Linked DNA regions of Homo sapiens: regions 1 and 2 are each linked to region 3. Evidence: fine-mapped expression QTL. A gene starts in region 3. Each other region holds a variant in brackets. All regions are shown on one strand. Distances are between the middles of the regions.

Evidence for each region. PIP is the estimated chance that this variant, and not a neighbour inherited with it, causes the effect.
Region 1: its variant is fine-mapped to the expression of HRNR in esophagus mucosa (GTEx, PIP above 0.99).
Region 2: its variant is fine-mapped to the expression of HRNR in prefrontal cortex (CommonMind, PIP 0.95).

The regions. Positions count from the first base shown.
Region 1 is chr1:152,335,742-152,344,145 of GRCh38, reverse strand. It overlaps CCDST (cervical cancer associated DHX9 suppressive transcript), which reads right to left. Exons shown (of 8, transcript NR_186765.1): 6 at 6,057-6,157; 7 at 2,936-3,059. Among named protein-coding and RNA genes, the nearest start is that of FLG, 15 kb to the right of the region's middle. The variant C/T (reference allele first, on the strand shown) is at 4,025.
Region 2 is chr1:152,185,946-152,194,349 of GRCh38, reverse strand. It overlaps CCDST (cervical cancer associated DHX9 suppressive transcript), which reads right to left and starts at 5,047. Exons shown (of 8, transcript NR_186765.1): 1 at 4,869-5,047. The variant G/A (reference allele first, on the strand shown) is at 5,091.
Region 3 is chr1:152,220,312-152,228,715 of GRCh38, reverse strand. It overlaps HRNR (hornerin), which reads left to right and starts at 4,523. Exons shown (of 3, transcript NM_001009931.3): 1 at 4,523-4,573; 2 at 5,438-5,600; 3 at 7,226-8,404. The coding sequence starts at 5,463. All of the region lies in intron 1 of CCDST (cervical cancer associated DHX9 suppressive transcript), which reads right to left.

The sequences.
Region 1 (8,404 bases), 120 kb before region 3:
CTAAGTAATTTGGAACCAGAGGGTGATCCTCTGTTTTCAGTAAAGTGATCAACTAACCCTGATTAAAGGTGAAGAAAGGATTCAGAGAAATCTTAAGGAAAGAGGAGAATTTGCAGTGGGTCTCCAGAGATGGTCAGGAGTTATTCAGGTTTATCTGAGGAGACTAACTACTCCAGGCTTTTGTTAAGTGTACGTAAAGTCTTAAAGTAAGAAAGACCATAGTGAGCTCAGGGAACCTGAAAATAATCCAGCATAGCTAAGACATAGGTTGTATGTGGAAGCATAGCAAGAAATGATGTTGGAGTAATAGGCATGGGAAGACTGTAAAATGAAAATAAAGATAAGTTTCTTTGGAATCTTTTGTAGCAAGTTAAATATGAATAAAAATTAAGATACTATGGAAAATTGTTAACTTTTTATTTAAAATTGCATAAATGGTATGATTCCATTGTGTTAAATAAATTTTGTCTAACTCTCCATCCAGCTGCATACAAAGAAATCTGAAATAATGTTTTCCAGAAGTTAACACTGATTATTTCTATATGATGGAATCCGTGATGATTTGTTGCTGTCTTCTATTACAATTTTCTGTATTGCTTGACTATTTTATAATTAAGGAGCATTCATTCTTTCAAATTTAAAAAGTCACTAAAATAAAATATAAACGAACGCATATGTTTACACTCACACAAAGTATAGACAGAGAGACTTCGGAGCAAAAGAACATGATCCAGATAGACAAAGAATAATTCCTGCTCCAGGGAACTGGGAAAACAAGGTCATTCAGGCAAACAAAGAGAGGTCAGATCAAGAAGAAATGTGTCGTCAAAGTCATACAATAGAGCGAGACTTAAGCTTAGGTTATTCTGCTGGAAGGAGGCAAAGTGTTAACACGATCAGAGAGTACAGTTAAAAAGAAGATCTAACTGGGGTGGAGATCCAAGCATTTTTATGAAAAACTCCCAAATGGAATTATTTTGTGTGGCAGATCTCCAAGCTTTGGTCAGCATTTCTGGCATATAGGATCAGTTTTCTATTATGAATTTGGCTCTTGTCAGCCTTCTAGCTAAAAAATATGATTGCAAAAAAGTCCATTTCACTTAGAGAAAAAAGTTAAAAGTTATTCATAAAAACAAGAGATTGAGCATGATGACAATGTCCAGGATGAAGGTAAACCATAGTTTTCTCCGTATTTTTTATCCATTTAATGAACAATTATTTCTACAGAGAAGTAATTCTCAGTAGAATCAGCAGAAGTGATTCTTGAGGATTTCTGCCTCAAGTCCCCTTTTTGCTCTTAAAAATTACTGAGAAACATGAAGAGCTTTTGTTTATGGGGATTATGTCTACCAATATTTTCCATATTAGAAACTAAAACTGAGAAGTTTTTAAAGTATTTATTCATTTAACAAGTCCATTACATATTAACATACCATATTTTTATTAAAATGTAACTATTTTTAGAAAACAATTAATGAGAAGAGTGGCATTGTTTTACACTTTTGAAAATCTCATTGATGTCTAGCTTAATAGAAGACAACTGGATTATAGTACCTAGTTCTGCCTTCCAGCTGTTGTGACATCACACATCTAGAAAACTCTACTGGATACTTGTAAGAGAATGAAAATTAAAAAGACAAATAATATCTTAGTATTATGATGAAAGTAGTTTTTACTTCACATGCACCCCAAGACTACATATTGAGAACCATGGCTATAGAAAATTCTAGTAAGACCTTTAAAAAGTGTAACTCTATTATTTTTTGCAAGGTCTTTAATAAGCATTCTAGGCCTTGGACCCTCTAGGTGAGAAAAAAAGATAAAAAGTGAGGAATATGAGGCCAAATTTTGGAAGAAACTAACATTGATTGAATGCCTATCATTTTCCAGGTTTTGGACAAAGCTGAGTTTCTACTGGTTTTCTCAGAACTCAAAGAATTTTCCAGCCTTAATCACTGACTATTTCAAAGTTTATCACCTTCCTCCAATGAGCTAAAAAAATCACAGGCCTAGCCTACTGGCTTAGGGATTTAAACTTGCTGTTGTAACACCAATAAATTCCACCTCAGCTCTTTTTTTAAAAAATTATCTGTTGTTTGTTTACTCTGTGCCAGACAGTGGTAAAGGGCTTTACATGAATTATTCCATTTAATAATCATATTAACTTTGGTAATCAAATATATATTTTATAGTTGATGAAACTTGATAACTGTTTTTTGTTTTGTGTTTAGGAGTTTGATAAATGGAAAGAGAAACAGGACAGGGCAAAAAAAGAGCCTCAAGCCTCAAGGATTACTTTTAACAGAAGTTCACAGCTGAAAGGTCACTGAAGATCATCTAGGTCAATGGCTCTTAACCTTTTGCTGTTTTCTTGTTCCGGAACTATTTGAGCATCCCTCTCCTAAATGCCCTTCCCCTCAAAAAAATGCGGAGACCCACTTACAAATGTTTCCTTATAATTTCAGGGACTTTACAGACCTTTCAAAGTACACTCATAGATATTGCCAGGTTAGGAACCCCATGATATTCCCTTTATATTTCATCTGAAAAAAGTGAATTCCAGTGTCACACAACCAATAGATGTCAACTGTTAATCAGAACAACACTGCATACCATATCCCAGACCAGGGCTTTTCCTACCACCTCATGTTGTCTTTTGGAAATAGAACCAAAGGGAAATGGGTTAGTGTAGGTGTAGCGGAAGTTAAAGGAGGACTTAATATGAGAGCCCATCTTTTTAAGTGTTATCAATGTTTTTTCTTATTTTTTAATATAGACACGTTACATAAACATGCACCAGGTATGGTGGCTCAGAGGCCATGGCAGAAGGATTCCTTGAGGGCAGGAGTTTGAGACCAGTCTGGGCAATGAAGTGAGAACCTGTCTATACACACACAAAAAAATAAAAAAATTAGCTGGGTTTGGTGGACTGTACCTGTTGTCCCAGCTACTTGGGAGGCTGAGGTGGGAGAAGCACTTGAGCCCAGAAGTTGAAGGCTGCAGTGAGCTATGATGGTGCCACTGTTCTCCAGCTTGGGCAACAGAGTGAGACCCAGTCTCTAAATACAAACAAACAGACATGCAAGCCTGCTAGTAAAATAAGCCAATATATTACTGTAAATAAATAAAATTGTCATCAAAACTATTCTCCTATTAATTATATGCATGAAAATTACTGAACACATCATTATTAGTTCATACCATGCATTCATTCAACAAAAACATGCCGCAAATAAAAAACGTTTTAAAAATTGATTTTAATTATGAAATGATACAGAAATATATTCTTCCTTTGAAAAATTAGAATATTTGTAGATATATGCTACAGCCTCCTCTGACCTTCATCCCAAATCCAATAACTTCTTTTCTGTACCCAGGAATAATCACTGAGGAATAGGGCTTGATTCTTTCCAGAAAACTTAAAGATATTTTTATAGACATGTGTGTACACACAGAAAACACCTAACATTTAGTGTACATTTTTAAGTGGTATGTTTAAGTGAGAATGCAGATATCTCTTCAACACCAATTTTAATTCCTTTGGCTATACACTCAGAAGTGAAGTTGATGGCTCATATTGTAATTCCATTTTTTTTTAAAGACCCCCATACATTTTCCAAACTGACTCAGACAACTGGTCATCTTAACATGCTGTATTTCACAATTTATTCAGATTTTCTTTTATATCCTTTTGTAAGTTTTTTTCCTATAAAAGTATTTCACTTTTTCATTAGGTTTATTTGGGGGTTTATTTTTGTTGTTAATACAAATGGAATTTTTCTATCATATTTTTGAATTGGTGATTTCTATTGTATAGGAAGCTGTGAACGTATTCATTCTGATTGTGTATTTGACTATCTTGCTGCACTCTTATTATCTTTGAATGTTTGTCAATTAATTTTGGGGGGTTCATTTTGTCTGAAACTGATGAACAAATTATCTTTCTTTCAACATTGATTCCACATTTCTAAATTATTTATTGCGGTAAGATACACATAATATAAAATTTATCATTTTAATCATT[C/T]TTGGTGTACCATTAAGTAGCATTAGTACATACATATTGTTGTGTAACAGTCAAAACCTTCCATTTCCAGAAATTTTACATCTTCCCAAGCTGAAACTCTGTATCCATTCAACAATAATCCTCCATTCTCCCTTTCCATCAGCAGCCATCATTTTCTTTTCTGTTTCAATGAATTTGACTACTCTAGGTACCTTATCTAAGTGAAGTCATACAACATTTGTCCTTTTGTGTCTGGCTTCTTTTGCTTGGCATAATTTCTTCAAGACCCAACTGTGTTGTAGCATGTATTGGAATGCCATTCCTTTTTAAGGTTGGATAATATTTCATTGTATGTAAATACCACATTTTGTTTATCCATTAACAAAACGGACATTTAGGCTGTTTCCACCTTTTGGCTATTGTCGATAACACTGCTATGAACGTGGGTCAAAAAGTATCTGTCCAAATCCCTGCTTTCAATTGTTTTGGATAACTACCCAGAAGTGGAATTGCTACCTCATTTCTTATTGATTAGGACTATCTAAATATTAGTACTCATAGTAGGCATCCTTGTCTTCTTTCTGACTTCAATGACATTGTTCTAATGTTTCAGTATTTGAAGTAGAGTATAATGTTTGCTATAGATTTCTGTTAGATAGCCAATATCAGATTAAGAAAGTTCCCTTCTATTCCTAATTTGCTGAAAAGTTCTACTACAAATGAGTTTAAAATTTTATCAAATGTCTTGTTCAATCTACTGAAAGGATTATATGTTTTTTTCACTTATTTTTAAATGATATTAATTGATTTTCAAAAGTTAAACAGATCTTGGAATCTTTTGGTAAACTCTATTTGGGAAATAAATTTGGGACACTCCTGGAATTGATATGCTAATATTTTATTAGGATATTTGCATTCTGTGTTCATAAGTGAAATTAATCTATAGTTTTATGTTCTTGGGCTTTCACTATCTAATTTTTGTACCTGACAAAATTGGTTGGGAAATTTTCATTCTTTTCTGTGCACTGGAATAGTTCATGCAAAATGTGGATTTCTTAAAGGTTTGGTAGATCTAGCTAAAACTAGTGGGTGGGCCTCCTGACTTTGGAGTTTGAAACAGTCAGTCTTTCATGGTTGAAAATAGAAAGTCAGATATAGATTCCTTGGCAATTGACATTTTCTTACTAACTTATCCATTTTGTGTTGATTTCAACATTACTGGTACTTAGTTGTTTATAATATTCAATTTTTTCAGCTTTTTGAAGGGATAACTGACAATAATATTCTATTTTTAAATCATTAGTTTATCTGTAGTTATTTTTGTTACTTTTTACTGCTCTTTAACCCTTTGCAAAAGGTTGCAAAATATATTATGCCTTTAATTACCAAAACACTTTACCTTTAATTCTATTTTAATCTGCTGTTAACTGCATTAGTGTTTGCCTGCCATATCTTTTACATCCTTCTCTTTTAATCTTTACTTTGTCATTTGTTTTAGGTGTGTTTTTAATAAACAATATATAGTCAAATATGGGTTGTTTATTTATTTAATTGGAGTTTATCTGTTAATAGAAAAAATCAGCCAATCATTGCCTTTAAAAAAAATTTAAACAACCTATAGAAAAGGCAAAGTATGAAACAGGATGGCAGAAATACTATGTTAGTTAAATGAACATAATTAAAATAACATAATTTCAAAAATGTAAATAGCCTAAACTAATGAAATAACAGAGACATTTATAGTTGATAAAAACTACAAAAAAGATTCAACATGTTGTCTACAAAATACATGCTTAATAATTATATACATATTATATATAATTACATATATAATCATATATAATTAATTCAGATTGATAACAGGATGCAAAAACTATTAAAAATCACATAACCTATCTTTAAAATTTGTCACATTAATATACTAAAAAAATTAAAATAACATGTTCATCTCAATGCAGGAAATACATTTGACAAATCTCAATGCATATCAAAGATAAAAACTCATACTAGAAATAAATGGAAATTTATTAATATATCAAAAAATACAGTATACCTTATAATTAATGAAGAAATCTTAGAGGCATTCCCTTCAGAAACAAAATCAGGAGCAATATCATTATTAGTGTTTGCCATAGTGGGGTGCCCTGCCCTATGCTATAAGGAAAGAAAGAGAAATAAATACATTGGTAGAAAAAAAAAAAGAAAACAAATGACATTATTTGCAGGTAAGATAATATGACTCTCTAGCTAGAAAAAAGCACCTAATCAACAAAGTATTACAACTAATAAGATAATTCAGCAAGTTTATCAGAAACAATCAAGTTACAAAAATTAAAAGCACTTTTCTCTCCAACAATAACCAATTACAAAATGTATTTAAAAATAAGATATCATTCAGAACAGCAACAAAAAATGTTAAATAACTAGAAAATAATGACAACATATAATACTTCCATGGAGAAAATTTTTAAATCTAATAAATGACATAGAAGATTATCTGAATAAATGGAGTGACATTCCATATCTTGGGGGAGATGACTTAATATTATAAACATGTCAGTTCATATTAATCTATACATTCAACACAATCACAAATACTTCAAAATATTTGTGTTGAATTTCTTGAGAAGTTCAATAACCTCAAGTTTTTATGGAAGAATAAAGATCCACGAACAGGTAAGTCAACATTTCAAGAAAAAGGCAAAGAATGGGTACTTGCCCTTCCAAGTATTAAGACATACTACACAGTCAAGTAATAATAACAATGTGATATTATTGCAATGACAAAAAGATCAGTGAAACATGATAAGGAGCTTAGAAATTAAGTATGTTTATATGGGAACTTAATATATAGTAAAGTGGGTACCATATATCAATGGGAAAAGGGCAGATTAATAGAAGGAGTTGCAAACCTGGCTCATGCCATAGATAAAAACAAAATTGGATATTTACCTAAAGTCACATACAAAGATAGACTGCAAATGAAATAAATATCTGAATGTGAAGCTTAAAACAACAAAGTAAAGAGAAGAAAATATGGGAAAATACCTTAGTAATCTCAGCACAGGAAAGAACATTGTAGATAGAACTTTACAGGCACACATAATACAAAACTAGTGATGACTTTTATTACATCATAATTAAAGATTTCTGTTCAGTGAAAGACACCACGAACAAAGTTAACAGAGAGAAGACACATTGAAATTATTTGCAGTGTCTAAAAATAACAATGTACTAACGTCTAGAACATACAATGAACTTCTTAAAGTAAAAAAGAAAATTAACAGAAAAATGGACAAAGTATTTGAACAGGCAATGTATAGAATAGGGTAATCAAAATGGCTTACAAATATACATAAAGATGTTCAAACTCATGGATAAGGGAAATCAAAATCAAAATAACAGTGAAATGAGCTGGAAAAAGTTAGGAAACTAGATATTGCTAGGTGTTGGCTGGGATGTGGGTTTAGGAAATCTCATGTACTCCTGGTAAGAAAGTAAAGCTGTTCTGGAGAGTTATCTGACAGTATCTAGTCAATATCAAGTATACATATAGCCTACCACCCAGAAATTCTACTTCTGTGTTTATGACCCCCAAAAATGTCTCCCAGAGATCCATAATGGACATATGTAAGAGGATGTTCGTCGCAGCATTATTTTTAGTGCTGAGGAATTAATTAGAAGCAATTTGAGTGTTCATCACCAGGGAAGTGCAGAGGTATACTGAGTAGATGCAAAACAACAGCACAATTAGAAGCAATGGACTAGACTTACATACTGCAACATGGATACTAAATGAAAAAAAAAGGTAAAAAAAAGAATGAGATCTAAAAAAAATAGCACTTACATAAAAGTAAAACTCTATGAACATAAAAGTAACAATAGATACTTTACAAACACCTGTACAAGTTAAGCCATATACAGTAAACTCATTAGAATAATTTATCTGTTGAGGGAGGAGGAGAGGACTGGGAATAAAGAATGGGGATGAAAGTTAACCAACTCTTCCACAGAAGAGTCTGCATAGCTCAATAATTACAATGTGCCATGAAATAAGGAATATGATTAACTCACATCTCTATACCTAGGATTTAAAAAAAAAATTGATATCCTGAGTGCTGATGGTCTCAAGTCAGCAAAAACTCTGGGGCCAAAGTCTATGAATGGTTAATTTTGCAAGCTCACATAACTGTCTGCTACAATAGAATATCCTTGGTGAAAGCATAGGAGAGAATAAAAGGGCTGAGACCTAAGAACAAACAGATTCTGGATTTCTGACTTCAGAAGACAAAGGAAAAGAAAGACAAGGAAAATTGAATCATTTTCTAGAGGGGTGTTAACTTAAAAATTACACAATTTATAAATTTTGAAAGGAAAGTTATATTTCTCATAGAGGGTTAC
Region 2 (8,404 bases), 34 kb after region 3:
AATGTAAAGAGGGAACCACATAAAAGGAAACTTGAGGTTTAGAGTCCAAAATGGACCCATATTGAAGGGAAAACCCAATATATTGAGACCTAAAACCTCTTAAAGATAGAATTTGAAAAGTGACCTCTCTTAAAGATAGATCAGAATGATGAAAAGGAAGACAAGCAAGAATCTAAGAAGGGAACAAGAATAATTGATAATTTCAGATGTCCTCTCATGCCATTTTAGGGCTAAGAGAAACTCAGGGGTCTGAATTTCTCCAACAAGCAAGGCCAAACATGTGAAACCAAGTTTTCCACTCCACAGCACTGAAGGGCCTCTCTACAGGGTTTGCAGTCATCTTGGTGACACTAAGAAAAGGAGACACGTGTCCTCTCAGCTCTGGGATTCCCATACGTACAGACAGGTTTGTGGTGTTCTTATTCACCACTCCTCACACTCAGTCTGGGGCAAGGGAAGAGCACAGGCCCAGCCCATACACTACAACCTACTCTACTTTTTCTCCAAACTCCTCTCCACTCTTGTTTAGATGGTCTTTTTTCTATTCTGGATAGGGGTGGAGTAGAAGGAAAAAAATGTTCCCAGTAGCGTCTTCTTTCAAACTTTAATGTCTCATACCTGCACCTTGCCTTTTGAATTTAGAAGAGAAAAATATTGATCTCTTTGTCTGCGGATCCCCCAGTTTGGACTAAGGGACCCTCAGAATAAATCTGTGCAAAACCCAGAGGGGGACTGGGAAAGACCTCGTTCATACATATCTGGCCATGGTTGTTTTTGTAGCTCTAAAATATTTCATTTGCATGTATTTACAAATTCAGCAAAATAAAATTACTTTAAAGTATATAATAAATGACATCAAATCCACCTTTTCTCTGTTGATGGGGGTGAGGCAGTAAAAATACCAAGTGCCTGAAATGGTGGGGCACAGGAACACAGGGATGAAAAACGTTTTATGGTTAAACAGTCTGATAAAACCACCAAACCCTTCTGCCCCACCTCAACAAGACACACTCTTGAAATGAAATGTCCCATTGTGTTTACAGAGAGGGAGAAACAGACAGTGAGGAAGGAGAGGATGGGAAAGTAGAGGAAGAAGGCTTTTTCTGCCTTAATAACAATGTTCAAAGGTTTGCCTGGCTTCACACTTGATTGTCTTCTCCCTCAAAAAAGCAAAAGCAAGGTAGCAACAGAGTTCTTTCAGTTTTCTGTGCAGATTCACATATAGATAACTAAGTAGTAATACTTCCTTACTTGTGTCAAAGAATTTGTGTGCACATTCCACTGGAAATAATTCCATCTGGACCTGGTAACTCCCTTTGGGGTGACTATATCTCCTGCAGGAACTCAGTCCTCACTCAAAAAATCCCAAATTTCCTTCAATCCCATACCCTCAATCACACCTTGCAAAGGTCATCCCTCAATGAAGTCTGGCCACCTGTTTCAGATCAGCAGCCCAAATGGCAATAGAGCCTATGTTGTTTCAATGGCCCACTAAATATTAACAGCTAATAATAGCTAATATAGCTAATAATAACATTTGATGAGCATTTACTATATGCTAGCACTGCTCTAAGAACTTCCCACATATTAATCCTCACAATAACTCTGTAAGTATTATTCTTACCCATATATTATAGATGAGAAAACTGAGAAACAGAGAAGTTAAGCAGCTTTCCCAAGGGTACACTGCTAGTAAGTGGCTGAGCCAGAATTTGAGCCCAGGCAGCCTAACTCCAGGGACCATGTTCTTAACCATTACATGATTCTTCCCCTTGGAAGAGGACAGAACAGATAATATGATGGTTACATTTAGATACACACAGTTTACAATTTGCCCATGGCCCTGGCTCCCAATAACTTCTCATTCCTTTAGCCTCACTGTTCATGTTTGATGTTTTCTGTCTTCATATTGAAAATGCAACACGTTACATTGTGTTAACTTGGCATAATGGAGTAAAAAACAAGGCTTCAGTGGGAATACAATCCTCATGTAAAGTTTAAGAATGGTCAAGACCTGTACTCATGTCTTCATCAAAATTGACTCCAAGTATCCAACTTAGCAGACCAAATGGATGGTGTTAGCACTAACAGAATTCAAGAATTCAGAAGGTAGAATAGATCAGGTTTAAAGAAATAAACTTAGCTCAGGGCATTCATTCATTCAACAAATATTTTTAAAGCATTGAATGTGTATCTGAAACTGTTGTACATTCTGGGCATTCAACAAGGAGGCAGAACAAGTCCTTGCCTCCTGGCAACATTCATTCTAGGGCACACTAGAAAAAACTGAAAAAGTAAATAAGTAAGGAACACAATGCTGTGAAAAAATAACCAAGGGAACCTCTTTCATATGGGGCATTCAGGGACAAAGCAAATTTGAGATGATCAAAGATAGGCAGGTAGATATACAGATCTTAATGACACATTGTCATTGTGCCTTCATGCCAGCTTCCCAAGAACCATAAAATATTTAAAAATAATTTATGATGTTGTAATGCAAACTTCTCAAGCTGATGCTCCAGGCTCTGCTCCAATCCAGCCCTGCCTATCTATCCTCTTCCCACCACCACTCCCAAACACATCTTCTCCATTCCACTTAGGCTAATCTCCTTACTGGCTCACAACATAACAAGTTCACCCCCAACCCTGTTCTCTCCCCTACACCTGTTAATTCTACCCATCCCTCAAGACCAGGCTCAAGTTCCACCTTCCTCATTCTTACCCACTCAGGCTTACCGAACACCCTTCTCCTTTAAACAACTAGTTCCCAGGCAATTAATTACGTAAAAATAGTCTTCTGTCCTTCGCGGCTGTTTCACATATGCCATAACCCAGGACTTTTAACACAAGGCACCACAATATCCTCCCAGCAAGTGTAGGCATGAAGGGAAAGGGGTGTGGCACATGTCCAGAGTTCCCTGGGCCAGAGGTGAAGAGAACTGACTCAGGCTCAGAGAGGCAGCTCAAGGGGAGCAAGCACAGCGAACAAGGGGCACAACTCCCAAATAGGAGCAATGCAAAGTCTCCACTCAAGTGGAAAGATCAACAACTGAGACTACAAGAGACAAGGAGGCAGTTCTAGAGGGGAACTAAGGATCCAGATGGGATATCTAATTGAGGAGTGAAAAGCATAGCATAAGCTCAGTCTCATAGACAAGTTCAACACAGGATAAAGGGAGTAGAGACTTGGGGGATAACCAGAGGCACAACAACTGTCAGCAAAAGGAATCCAGTGAAATTCTGGAACCTACAAACCAAGAATGGGTGACCAAGTTTAAGGACCTGACCTAATTCTAAGCTGTAGGTACAGATTATCAGTGGGCTTGTCTTGGGGGAAATGGGGAAAGTAGATGAAAAAGAGATGAAGGCCAAAATGGTTATGTATAGATTATTTGTCCCTTACGGGCAGGAGACAGGCTTTATGCCTCATTTCTATCCTCCACACCAGTTAGCAAAATAAATATTTACTGATTATGTAAAAAAAGAAAGATCACAGAGAATTTGGTATTACCCAATGATGGGAAGTATGCCAAGATAACCTTAGTCATGATTTAAGCAAGTTATGTATTGTGAAGTCTCCATCACCCTAAAAACACCAAGTGGTAATGTGATCTGGTGAATGAACACGACTGGAAATGAGGACATGAAACCAGACCAGTTTTGTTAGAAACCTCTTATGAGACCCTAAACAAGTTACTTTACTTATCTGAACCTCAATTACCTCATCTTTAAAGGAGTAAATGTAATAACTCCAATTTTTTCATATCTAGAACACACTTCCCGCCAGATCTGACTAATTTCCTCACATCTTTTGAATCTTTGCTCAATCTTGCCTTCCTAATGAAGCCTATTTAATACTAACCACTCTATTTCATACTGCAACCTGCCCATCCCACCAACCCTACCCACACACACAAACACTGGTCTACATTTTTTCTTTTTCATAACACTTCTAACATTTTACATAATTTATTATCTTTATTGTTGTGTGCTAGAATGTGATCTCTATGAAGGCAAAGATCTTTGTCTATTCTATTCATTGATATACTTCACATCTCTGAGTGGAAACTGGAACAGAGTAAACATCCAATAAATATTTGTTGAATGAATACATGAATCGATCTTTAAAAAGGCCAAAATCTTGTGAAAGACCAGAATAATAAATCATTTATATTCTCCCTGAGACCAGGGTCGGCCTCCCACACCCTCAGGCATCCCTATATCCCCTGGTACAGTGTACCATAGTGTGGAATAAGTATTCAATACGTCCCTACTAAATTACTAATTAAACATGGGACCCAAAAAGACAAACATAACCGCGTGCTCTGGGGCCACCTGCTGGCAACTCTTAGTAGGTACCTAAGCAACCAAACTGACAAGAATTTTCAGTGATGAATGGAGTGGCAGGGATTATCTCCTTTCAGCCAGTGAGAACAATCAGGCAACAGACGGCAACAGGAGGAAGGAGGGTAGGCTGGAAATCAGACGTTTCCAAAACCTGCTGTGAAGGACCATACACCCACTGTTTCCCAGAACTCACTTTCTACTTAACAATAATAACGGTAAGTACCCTGTACTGTTTTAAGCACTTTCATGTATCATCTCATTTAATCCTCACATTAATCCGCTGTACCATCTTTACCACCATTTTATAAATGACCAACATTTCCTTTTGAAATAATTACTTTACTTACGTGAAGCAGTGAAGCGGTAAAACAGTGTAAACTATTATTAGTAAGAAAAATCAAGGCATGACTTTTGGGGAGTACCAAGGCACCATGTGCGGGCAGAATGTGACACGCCTGGAGAGGACCAACGACGCCCCAAGGGGGCTGACCTACCAGCCCGCCCCTCAAGCCAAGCACAACCTCAGTCCGGGGTTCTGGATCCCAAAGTCCGCTCCGTTACATTCGGATCACACCAGAACAAGGAGGCAGCCCGCGCCCCGGCTAGCGAGCTCTGCGCCAGGGGAACGCGTGCCGGCGCCCTTAAGCTCCCAAAGCCCCTTCTCGGCGAAGCCGCCGGGGGACGCGGGCCCCGGAAGTGCAGCCCCTCCGCCCGGAAGCAGCTTTTCCTACTTCCCTTGGCGC[G/A]ACGGGAGCCTGTGTTCACCAGTGCTCCGGCTGAGGCCAGATTCCTGAGGCCGTTCCTTTCGCTGTTTCCGAACGCACAGCCCCGAGAGGCCGGAGGGGATACGAAAGACCTAGGCCGATGGCCCTTCCACACTGCCGCCCCTCGGCTCCCCACCTCTACCAAGGGAGGCCACTGATGTCAGATTCCTCTGTGTTCTGGGAGGATGTTCTGGCCGAGGTCCGCGACCGGGCCCAGCAGCTGCCTGGGGCAGTCCCCGTGATCCTAACAGAGAACGGGGCCTCGGCTCGCAGGATCCCGCTCTGGGCTCCAAGGGCTCCTCGTATTGTAGGAGCTTTCCGCAGCCCCTCTAGGCGCTGGGACCCTTTGGTGGGATAACGGCTAGGGTTCCCTACTCCGTCCAGTGCCAGCGTCCGGCCTCTGAAAGACTTTCCTCAGCCTCCACCTTATCCCGTAAATAAGGACTTCAGGTGACCTGCAAGTGCGCCCCCTGCTGGCCCGTCGGACTCCCACCACCTTGGTTCGCCCCAACAGCCTTGGCTACATGGTTTCCCAAATGGAGTACCAAGATAGTCTTAAGTGCTACATGCACTTTTTAAGAATGTTTGAGTATTTATTCTTATTTGTGTTAGAAAATACTAAAACCAGCCCAACAAACCGGTTATCTCAAATATTAGTGTAAGGCTAAATTCTTAAGTGAGTAGTTAACATTGGTTCAAAAATATTAGGCCGGGCATTGTGGCTCATGCCTCTAATCCCAGCACTTTGGGAGGCCGAGGTGGGTGGATCACATGAGGTCAGCAGTTCAAGACCAGCCTGGCCAACATGGTGAAACCCCGTCTCTACCAAAAATACAAAAATTAGCCGGGCATAGTGGCACGCACCTGTAATCCCAGCTACTAAGGAGGCTGAGGCAGGAGAATCTCCTGAACCTTGGAGGCAGAGGTTGCAGTGAGCCGAGATCGCGCCACTGCACTCTAGCCTGGGCAACAGAGCGAGACTCTGTCTCTAAATAAATAAATAAGAATATTATTATTATATATACACAGATATTGCAAAAATCTTGAAGGTGGTACTCAGATGACTAAAGGAGAAAACTCAGTCTCACAGAGTCAATCAAGGGAAAAAACGGGTGTGGTAGTTAATTTTATGTGTGAATTTTGTAAACCAAAAATTATCTGAGACGGGTCTCAAATCACCTTAGAAGTTTATTTTGCCAAGGTTAAGGACCACTCCAGAAACAGGTCTGTGCTTTCCCCAATGATAATTTTTTAGGACTTCAATATTTAAAGGGTGAAAGCAGGGTGGAGAAGAAATAGGGAGGGTAGGGTCACATTACTAAATCCACATATTGCAAGATAAAAGGAGAAGAAGGTAAGGGAATAGTCAATTATGTTTCCGTCTCATGCTCAGTAAATCGGTGCTTTACACAAGGTAGGGTGAACATAGAGTGGAGATATTTAATCTTTTATCAGTAGCTATGGGCCTAGGAACAAAAGGAAAGGCCGTTGCTTGCATGACTTACCTTCTGCTTAATTTTTTTCTTTTGGCATAGTGAACTTCCCTTTCACATTTCAGAGGATATTTTTAGATGGGATTAACATTTAAATCAGTAAACTTTGGGTAAAGCAGATTGCCCTCCCTAATGGGGTGGGCCTCATCCAATCAGTTCAAGGCCTGAATAGAACAAAAAGACTAGCATCCCTGAGCAAGAGAAAATTCTCCAGCAGACTGCCTTAGGATTGTGTATAATCAGCTCTCCCAAGTTTCTAGCCTGCTGTCCTACACTGCAGATTTTAGACTCTCCAGCTTCCATATTCACATCAGCCAATTCCTTGTAATAAATCTCTTTCTATAAATACACATGCTGTTGGTTCTGTTTCTGAGAAATCCTACTAATATGGTGGGTGATCTTAAATAGTCTTCCCTCTCTGACACTGAGTGGAGCTTCAAGGAGGACAGCAGAAGAAAGAGGGCTTGACTCCAGTATCCAAAGTGCTGAGGGCTCACCCTAGGACCTATTCACTGGGCATATTGCTGTAGCTTTACTTCTTCACTCCCCCTTCCCACCAGGTCCCTTGGATGCCAGGTTCTAAAGCACTCCCACTGCTCACTCTTCCTGGAAAAGGGCATTGTGGTGGAATGTTGAAGGAGCTTGGCAGCCAAATCAGCATATCCAGTGTCGTGACTCAACCCCTTCACAGCTCGCAACCTTAGTTTATCAAAGTCCCTTCCCTTCTCTGGAATTCCATTGTATCTGTATGATGAGAAGGCTTGATTAGGTGATGTCTAAGGTCTCTACTAGAGGTGAGCGCCTTTTCCCCACTCCTGGCCTCTTTTCACTCCTTTCTTCTCCTTGCCCCTGAGATGGTAGAAGGACTTAACTGGTTGGTAAATTTTGTAAGAATAATTGGCTTAGCTCTACTCTGCTTCTACTTGGGAACTGCAGAGATCCCTATGGCATAATAGGGACTTACTCTTAGGCAAGGATGCCCAGGCCTGTCATGATTAGGTGGGTAAGTTAGCCTAATTCTCAGTTCTAGTATGAGCAAGCCCCAGCTAGCAGACCTAGCGCTACTAATGTCTTACTTAATCACTATCAATAAAAAAGATGACATTTTGAGCACCACATTTTCTTTCTATTTTTCAGTACAGTTCAGAACAAGGGCAAAGAAATAAAACAGTTCCGTTTACTGAGATCCCTTTGCAGAACACAGTAATTCCTTCTAGCCCTTTCTAGCACTTATTAAACAAGACAATATAAAACATCTAATGAATAAATTCACACTAAAGGGCTAATATAACCCTTCATAGGCTATTTATACTTTAAAAAGCACTATAAGAAACAGAAAAAGGGCAGTGCTTTATGGTAGACATTATATAACTATACTACCTCAGTGGAAAGTATATTTTGGAGTAAGACCTTTTTCAGGGCCTCTCAAATTACACCCGTCTGTTCATCCGTCAACAGTTGTTAAGAAAGTTAAAAGTAGAGATTATGGAGTTAAATTGTCTGGGTGCAAATCCTGCTGATGTCCCTGACTAGCTGTGTGGCCTTGGGTAGGTTGTTTAACCTCTCTGTGCCCTAATTTTTCCATCTACAAGATGGGGATAATAGTAAGAACTTGAAAGACACTTGGTAAGCACCATAAAACTTCTATTGTGTGTAAGACACTGTGTTACTCCTAAATCCCCCAGGACTTTGCCTCTAGAATAAAATCTATAGAACCAAGAAAGGAAATTGATTGCAGAGGCCGTGGGAATGGTAAAATTAAATCAAATGTAAACATTTGGGCCAGTAACAAGGACGAATTTC
Region 3 (8,404 bases):
CCAGAAAGGAAACAGAGGTCTGATCAGTTTGCTACTCATTACATTCATACTACAATGCCTCACTCTCCCTTCTCTATCTGCTATCCCACCACTATCCCCTGCCACACACACATGCACGCACGCACGCACGCATGCACATCGAAAGGCAAATGTTCTGGATTTGATTTCCAACAATCAAGGTCCTTATATCTCAGCTTTTTTTTTTTTTTTTTTGGTACCATTTCTAACACTTGAAGTGTTTGTGAGAATCGCTTCCAGTCACTCTTCTCCATTTGTCCACTTTAATGGACCAGGTCTGCATGCTGAATGTTTCAGGTAGTAGGAACTAAGGGATAGAGACTATGAATACCAAGCCAGTAAGAGCATCAAACATCAAGATAAGAACACACAGCCTAAGTAACACAGTGAGACCTCATCTCTACAAAAAAATATAAAAATTAGACAGATGCAGTGGCATACACCTATAATCTCAGCTACTCGGGAAGCTAAAGTGGGAGGATCACTTGGGCCCTGGAGTTGGAAGCTGCAGTGAGCCATGGTTGCACCACTGCACTTTAGCCTGGGCAACAGTGAGACCCAAAAAAAAAAACTATATATATATTTTTTTCTCATATATATATATATATATATATATATATATATATATATATTAGAGAAAGATACTGATGGAATAAATAAAAGGATACATGTATGAATGAGCTCTGGATTCCCAGCATTTGAAGCATTTTGGAGTTCTCGGAAGAGAAAATGGAGGATATTAAGGGAGAAAGAAACAACTCAATAGGCAGACCAGTACTGAAGCAGAATATATTCCAGGGTGTGGGTCTGAAGCTGAAAGATATGTCACCATGCCTGTCTCATCCCCAGGGAATATATACTAAGCTGTAAAATTATATCGAATCCATTTTTTATTTTTTGAGATAACAGTAAAAAGGACTCAAAAGAGGATATAGAAGGAAGCACTATTTAACCAGTTTCATATTATAGCTAACTTCTTTTGATTCCATTTACCCAAAATCATGACCATCAACCTTCTCTTATATACATACCCCTATTTTTTACATAGTCTCCTCATTTATAGAGACTAGGCTACAAAGAACTATAGAAATTCCATGAAATAATTTCTGTAAGGAAAAAGGGCAGAAAAGGCAATGAAGAAAAGATCTGCTTTAGAATTTCCCTATGACCCAGCAGATGGTGCAATAGGCACATTACTCTGCCTTCCAGACAGGCAGAAAAAAATGAGTGCACACAGATGGTACTGGAACTTCACTGTTTATCCTTGCTAGTTTTGTTTGTTTGTTTTTCCTAGGTGAAACACTCCATTCCTGAAGAACTGTTTCCAAAACCCTTCCTTTACCAAGACATGAATATTTCCCTACTTGCTGACTATTCCTAGGAAAAAGCAGATTTGAATTTGAATTCTGTCTTCTCCACTTAACAGCTAAGTGACTTGAAACAAGTTACAGATTTCATCTGAGCCTCAGTTTTCTCATCTGCAAAATGGAAATATAATATCTAGATAACAGGGTTGTTGTAAGAATTAATGAAACAATGTACACCCACACACAAAGCACTGTGCTTGTCATAAAAAGGAATGTAATTTTCATTCTTCTGCCAACACACAGAGAAAGGCACTCAAAAACCTAGAACATGGCACATACCATAGAAAAGCTTTTCTCCTGAAACCTATCATCTCCAAGTGGAAAAACCACTAACCAAACCCATGATGGAGGAATCTTCATGTCCAACTCTGTTACTATGGAGCACACACTCTAAAAAAAACAAGAAACTGTTTTGAAAGTGACTTTTGTGATAATCTAGTCCTACTCTTAATAAGTAATTCTCAATGGGGAGAGAAGAGACCAAGACGCATATGTAATATGCTTCTTATTTTCATGATACAAACGAGGAAAAAAAGCCCAACAAAATTCTAGTTGGTGAGCATATCCAGAAAACAACGTAATGAAAGAATTAATTTTTTCTTTAATAGTAAAAAACTATTCATATGATACTTGACAATAAATTCAGTTACTTCACAAAGAGCTCACTGCATTTTCAGTCAATGCAAATATTAAATATTTCTCCCTTACATCAAATCAAAATTTATCTCCCTTTTACGAGCAGCCAAAGGTCCCTTGTTCTGTTCCCTTTCCCCACCACCCCACACATGCTGATATTTACAAATTCACCTTCACTCTTGTTCTCTCATGCAAGAGTTAGTGGTTCTGATGTCCCACACTTTTCAGCCCTTCTTTTCTCTCAGATCCTCCTCTCCCAGAGAATCTTCCTGAAAAGCAAATACAGAAGAGGAGCAAAGAGTGGTAAACTACAGCCTGCAGTTCATAGCTAGCTTGTCATCCATTTTTGTGTAGCCTACAGGATAAAAAGGTTTTCTACATTTGTAAGCGGTTGAAAAAATATATGATATGTGAAATTATATGACATTCAAAGATCAGTATTGATAAATAAGTTTTACTGAAACATAGCCATGCTCATTTGTTTACATATCATCTATGGCTGCTTTTATGCTACAATAGCAGAGTTGAGTAGTTGCAACAAAAACTATCTGTCCTGCAGAGATAATATTTTGTACCATCTGGCCCTTTACAAAAAAAAAAGTTTGCTGGCCCCTATTTCAGGAGAACACTAGCCCCAAGAGCACGTTCACCTGGAATAGTCTTCTCTCACAACCCTCTCCTCCCTTCGTGACAACAGCTGGTTCCTGCAGGAAATCAGTCTTCACTCAGCAAATTCCACCCCCCTTTACTCCCACAGTCTCAGCCACACCTTTAAAAAGTCATTGTTCTGATGAAGCATGAAAACCTGGCCCAATCAGATGTCCAGAGGAAACACGGCTACAGAATGGATACTGACTCTGCAGCCCTCTGGGCAATTCTTAAAAGAAAACACATAGCCTAACAATAGTTGAATTTGGAATCATGTAATTTATCACTTGCCAACAGTTGCTACCACACCTTCTCAAATCCTGATGACCATATTGCACAAGTTTTAAGTCCATGTAACTTCACACACCTTCAGTGAAATTTGTGTTATATGTTCACAATGGAAGAAATGCAGAGCGAGGGCCTCAGAAAAAAGCAGAAAGCCACTCATTGATTCTCAATGCTAAGATTCCGTTTATATTCAGGTAAAATCATGTCCTCTGAGGCAAAGATGGCAAGAGAGAGGGCAGACCCTAGTCCTCCTGTGAAAAGATGGAAGTTGGCCAATGCAGAGGACTATAGTCTTGATCCTTGCTTCTCTTTCAAATGAATTCAAACTGACATTTATTGGAGACCGTTATGTGACAAGCAGTATACTAGGTCTCCAAATGACATAAGGATAAATAATGTCCATTCCTTATTCTCAAGGAGCTCATAGCCTAGAAATGAAATAAGCCCATAGACAAATGTGTGTGTCTGTGTGTGAATGTGTGTGTTTGTGAAAGGCAAGGATATACAACAAATAACTAACAGTAGTTATTTTTGGCTAGTGGCTTTAAAGGTATTTTGATTTTATCTTATTTGCTTATCAATATTTTCTAATTTTTATATTAAACAATAATTGTATAGTAAAACAATTTTTAAAGATTACAATATAGTATGATTGATACAACAATAAATATGAATAAGGTACACAATTACAACTCCCTCTTGAGTAATTCAGGAAAGATTTTCTATGGGAAGCCTAAATTGGATTTTGAAGAATAATTAGTTCACTAGGCAGACAATGAGGAAAGACATTCTAAGAAAAAATATGAAATAACATATCCCATGGTATATTGAGGAAGTTTGAAATATTACTAGTTAATTACTGTTGGAGTACAAAGAGAAATATGGAGGGGAGAAATGGAGCTGGAAAAAAGCCACAGCCCAGATCATGAGGAACCATGGATACCATGCTAACAAGCACGCATTTCTTCCTAAGGTTATATGGTGTTTGAAATGAAAGCTATGGTGATGAATGGCCAATAAGGGGTCTGGTAAATTGAGGTACTTAATGAGTTAAAGGATGGCCTGGAGCCATTATCCAATTCAAAAGGTAATAACAATACCAAAGATGACACTTTGGCTGGAATACCATTTAAGAACATTTAGCTTAGAATGGGAGAGTTTGACTAGATGATCTTTACAGTCCTTTTAATCATCAATTTCCATGATTTTTTGACATTTGGGCCATGATGTCCCTGCACACACTCCATTCAACTTCTATTAAAATCCACACAATTTGTTGTCAATATATTGTGCTAGATAGTTTGATGAATACAAAAACAGGCCTTTCTGCAGTGTCCTGACCCTTTGGCAGGTGGGGCTGAGAGTAGCCCAGATTTGGGAACTGCTAATGCAATCTTAGGTGAACCTGTAAGGAAGTCAGGAAGAAGGTAAACACCTGGGAGGTGGAGATAGAGGTGGAGATGGGCTTGTTTAGGAGTAAATTAGGACATCTCAAAATTAGCAACTCCTCCCTAAGAGGGACCATTATTCCCTCTATAAAAAGGCCACTCTGCCCAACTCGCAGCACCCTGAAAGCTGTTTCTGTCTCTACCCTACTTGTTCCTCTGGTGAGCTAGGTAAGTGAGCAGTTCAACTCCGCTCAAGGGTACTTAGGGCTATAAATTATGAAAGTCCAGGATGTGCTCTAAGGCAAAGAGGCACTAGATACAAGGCTTCTTTTTAGTATACTCTGGGGAACTTTGGTATAAGTTTAAATTTACTGAAAAGAAAAATGAAACAAAGACTAGGACTATGTATATTATCTCCTTTCTTTGAGGTCGCTTCCCTTATAACATGGATATCATGGGGTTCTAATTATCCACAGGCAGGTTGCCTTCTTTACAACTGAGCTTTTCCTCTCTATTGTGTAATAAGGTCTGAGGGTCACTTCCTGCTTGGAGAATGAGAACAGAAGCTGGATCTAATAGCAGTTACCCTTAGCTTCATATCACCTAGGCTTGTTGGCTTTGCTCACATTGTCTATTTTCTCTGACCTAGAAGTCTTGAGAGTTCAGTTCAGCCATTGATGCTCCTTAGGTTGAGTAAGGCATGTCATGTAGATGATGGACCTATGCCCACAGTATGCTTCGAACCTAGAAAGAGGAAGCAGATGAAGTGGAACACTCAGGACTTCTACAGCTCCAGAACAAAGCTAATATTATCCCTGGTAATGGCAGGAAGCCAAAAACAGAAAGTCATTTTTCCTACATTCATTCAGGAATGGAAATAAGACCTATGGATTATATTCCTAATTTCATCACTCTCTTGCTACATGGCTTGAACAAGTCATTCAACTCTGAATTGGTTCTTGATTACAACAGAATGAATTTAATCATGACTGACTAATTCTGAACAATTATTATAAATAATTAGAACTATTTATGTGTTTAAACAAGAAATAAGAATAGTAAGGGGTTGGTCTCTCTTTTTCCTCCCTTTAGGTTACTCAAACTTGCAAAAAAAAAAATGCCTAAACTCCTACAAGGCGTCATCACTGTCATCGATGTTTTCTACCAATATGCCACCCAGCATGGGGAGTATGATACGTTGAACAAGGCAGAGCTGAAAGAACTTCTGGAAAATGAGTTTCATCAAATTCTGAAGGTAAGAACTCCACGCCAGGATGGAGTTATGCAGGAATTTTCTTCTTTATCCCTTTCCACCTTCTTGTCACATATGTCAAACATCCTAGAGGATTGTCCTTACTTGGTGAGAGAGAACAGGGTTTGGTAAAAGTTTGAGATAAGGTCAAAAGCAGATCCGTGATGGTTTCCATAGCATAACTAACGGAAGTGACCTTACTAAACAACAAACAAAACCCACAGGTTAAATAATGTCCTATCTAAGTGACTAATTCCTACAAACCCAGACAGTCCTCAGAAAAACTGTGAAGTAGATTTCTGAGTTCAGGAAATTGGCATTTACTCCTGAATCACAAAAGAATGTGTCCACCACCTTAAAACTGTCAGGTCTAGATTTGATAGCTTAGATATTTGGGACCTTATATCAGACTCCTGAGTTTCAATTCCTTAAATTTGGATTTCTGTGGATTTCAGATATGATATTCAGATATCAGATGTCAGATATTCAGTGTGTCAGCTATGAATCTCATAATCTTCCCCACTAACCTTTTTCCTTCATCTTTTTGCCCAAAGCAAAAACCTGGTGTCATTTTTTATTGTCTCTCTCTCAGCAGACACCACTACCTTCTAACCTCCATCTAACTCATCAATAATCTCTCAAAACAACCCATTTCTCTTCATCACTATTATTAGTCCTCTGGTTCAGGCCACCTACTACTTCTACTCTCAGCATTGGATGCAAATATAATCATTTCACTCCTCAGCTAAAAATCCTTCAATAGTTCCCAATTGCTCTTAAAATGAAGTACAAAGTTCCTTAACATAACTTAAAAGTCATAATCTAGTCCCTATTTGTCTCTCTATCCACATTTCTTGACTCTTCAAACTCTAAATCTAGCAATCCTGAATTTCCTTCAGTTCCTTGAATGCTCCATAACTTCTCTCACCTCTAGCCCTTTGTTCATATAATTCCCTCTGCCTAGAACAATCTTTTCCCCTTCTCTTTCTCTTCCTACTTCTTCATTTGGCTAATCCTAATCCATCCTTCAAAAGGCATCATTTCCTCTCATTAACCTTTCTAGGACCCCCAATGTTTCCTCTCTGATGTACTCTTGTAGAAACCTTACCACAATAAATTATAATTTTAAGTTTGTATATCTGGCCAACTAAACTTTAAATTCCATTTTTTTTCAGGAAGCAAACTTGTTCACTTCTTTATACTCTCATATGACATAATGGTAGGCAACTAGTAAAATAATAAATCTTTGTTCAGTGAGTAAATTAAGTAGCTAGTTAATTTAATTGGATAAATAAAGTTGATATAATTAATGTAGGTATAAAAACATATTACTTATAAATTAGCTAATCATTCATATTTGACCCATTCTTTACCAAAAATAATCAGCCCTCTTGTTTCCTTTCATCTTCCAGTTGCATCCTATTCTAGCTGTTTCCCACCACATTATTCATTCCATATTCCTTTTTCTCTTTCTGCTCAGGATACAGAAATGCAGCCTAAAGGACTGTGTGAATGAGTTCCATATAAATAACCCAAACATTTACATTTTCACATCTTTCCTTCAGTTCGTTAGCCAGATGTATTGTCCATACTAACAGAGCTACTCTTTGTACCTTTCTCTTATACAGAATCCAAACGATCCAGATACTGTGGATATCATCTTGCAAAGTCTGGATCGAGACCATAACAAGAAAGTGGATTTTACTGAGTATCTTCTGATGATATTCAAGCTGGTTCAGGCTCGTAATAAAATCATTGGCAAAGATTACTGCCAAGTTTCAGGGTCAAAGCTGAGAGATGACACTCACCAGCACCAAGAGGAACAAGAAGAAACTGAAAAAGAGGAGAACAAACGGCAAGAATCCTCTTTTAGTCATTCAAGTTGGAGTGCAGGAGAGAATGATTCCTATTCCAGAAACGTCAGAGGAAGTCTTAAACCTGGGACTGAATCCATATCCAGAAGACTGAGTTTTCAAAGAGACTTTTCTGGCCAACATAACTCCTACTCAGGTCAGTCTTCCAGCTATGGTGAGCAAAACTCCGACTCCCATCAGTCTTCAGGCCGCGGCCAATGTGGGTCTGGGTCAGGGCAGTCTCCCAACTATGGCCAACACGGCTCTGGCTCCGGACAGTCTTCCAGCAATGACACACATGGGTCTGGCTCAGGCCAGTCTTCTGGCTTTAGTCAACACAAGTCTAGCTCAGGGCAGTCCTCTGGTTACAGTCAGCATGGATCTGGCTCAGGTCACTCCTCTGGCTACGGACAACACGGCTCTAGGTCAGGACAGTCATCTAGGGGTGAACGACACAGATCTAGCTCAGGTTCGTCTTCCAGCTATGGTCAGCATGGGTCTGGTTCCCGTCAGTCTTTGGGCCACGGCCGACAAGGGTCTGGATCTCGCCAGTCTCCTAGCCACGTCCGACATGGGTCCGGTTCGGGGCACTCCTCCAGCCACGGCCAACACGGGTCTGGCTCAAGTTACTCTTACAGCCGTGGCCATTATGAGTCTGGCTCAGGCCAGACTTCTGGCTTTGGGCAACATGAGTCTGGCTCAGGACAGTCCTCTGGCTATAGTAAGCATGGTTCTGGCTCAGGTCACTCCTCTAGCCAGGGACAACATGGATCTACGTCAGGGCAGGCATCAAGCTCTGGCCAACATGGCTCCAGCTCACGTCAGTCTTCCAGCTATGGTCAGCATGAGTCTGCCTCCCGTCACTCTTCAGGCCGCGGCCAACACAGCTCTGGATCTGGCCAGTCTCCAGGCCACGGCCAGCGTGGGTCTGGGTCAGGGCAGTCTCCCAGCTCC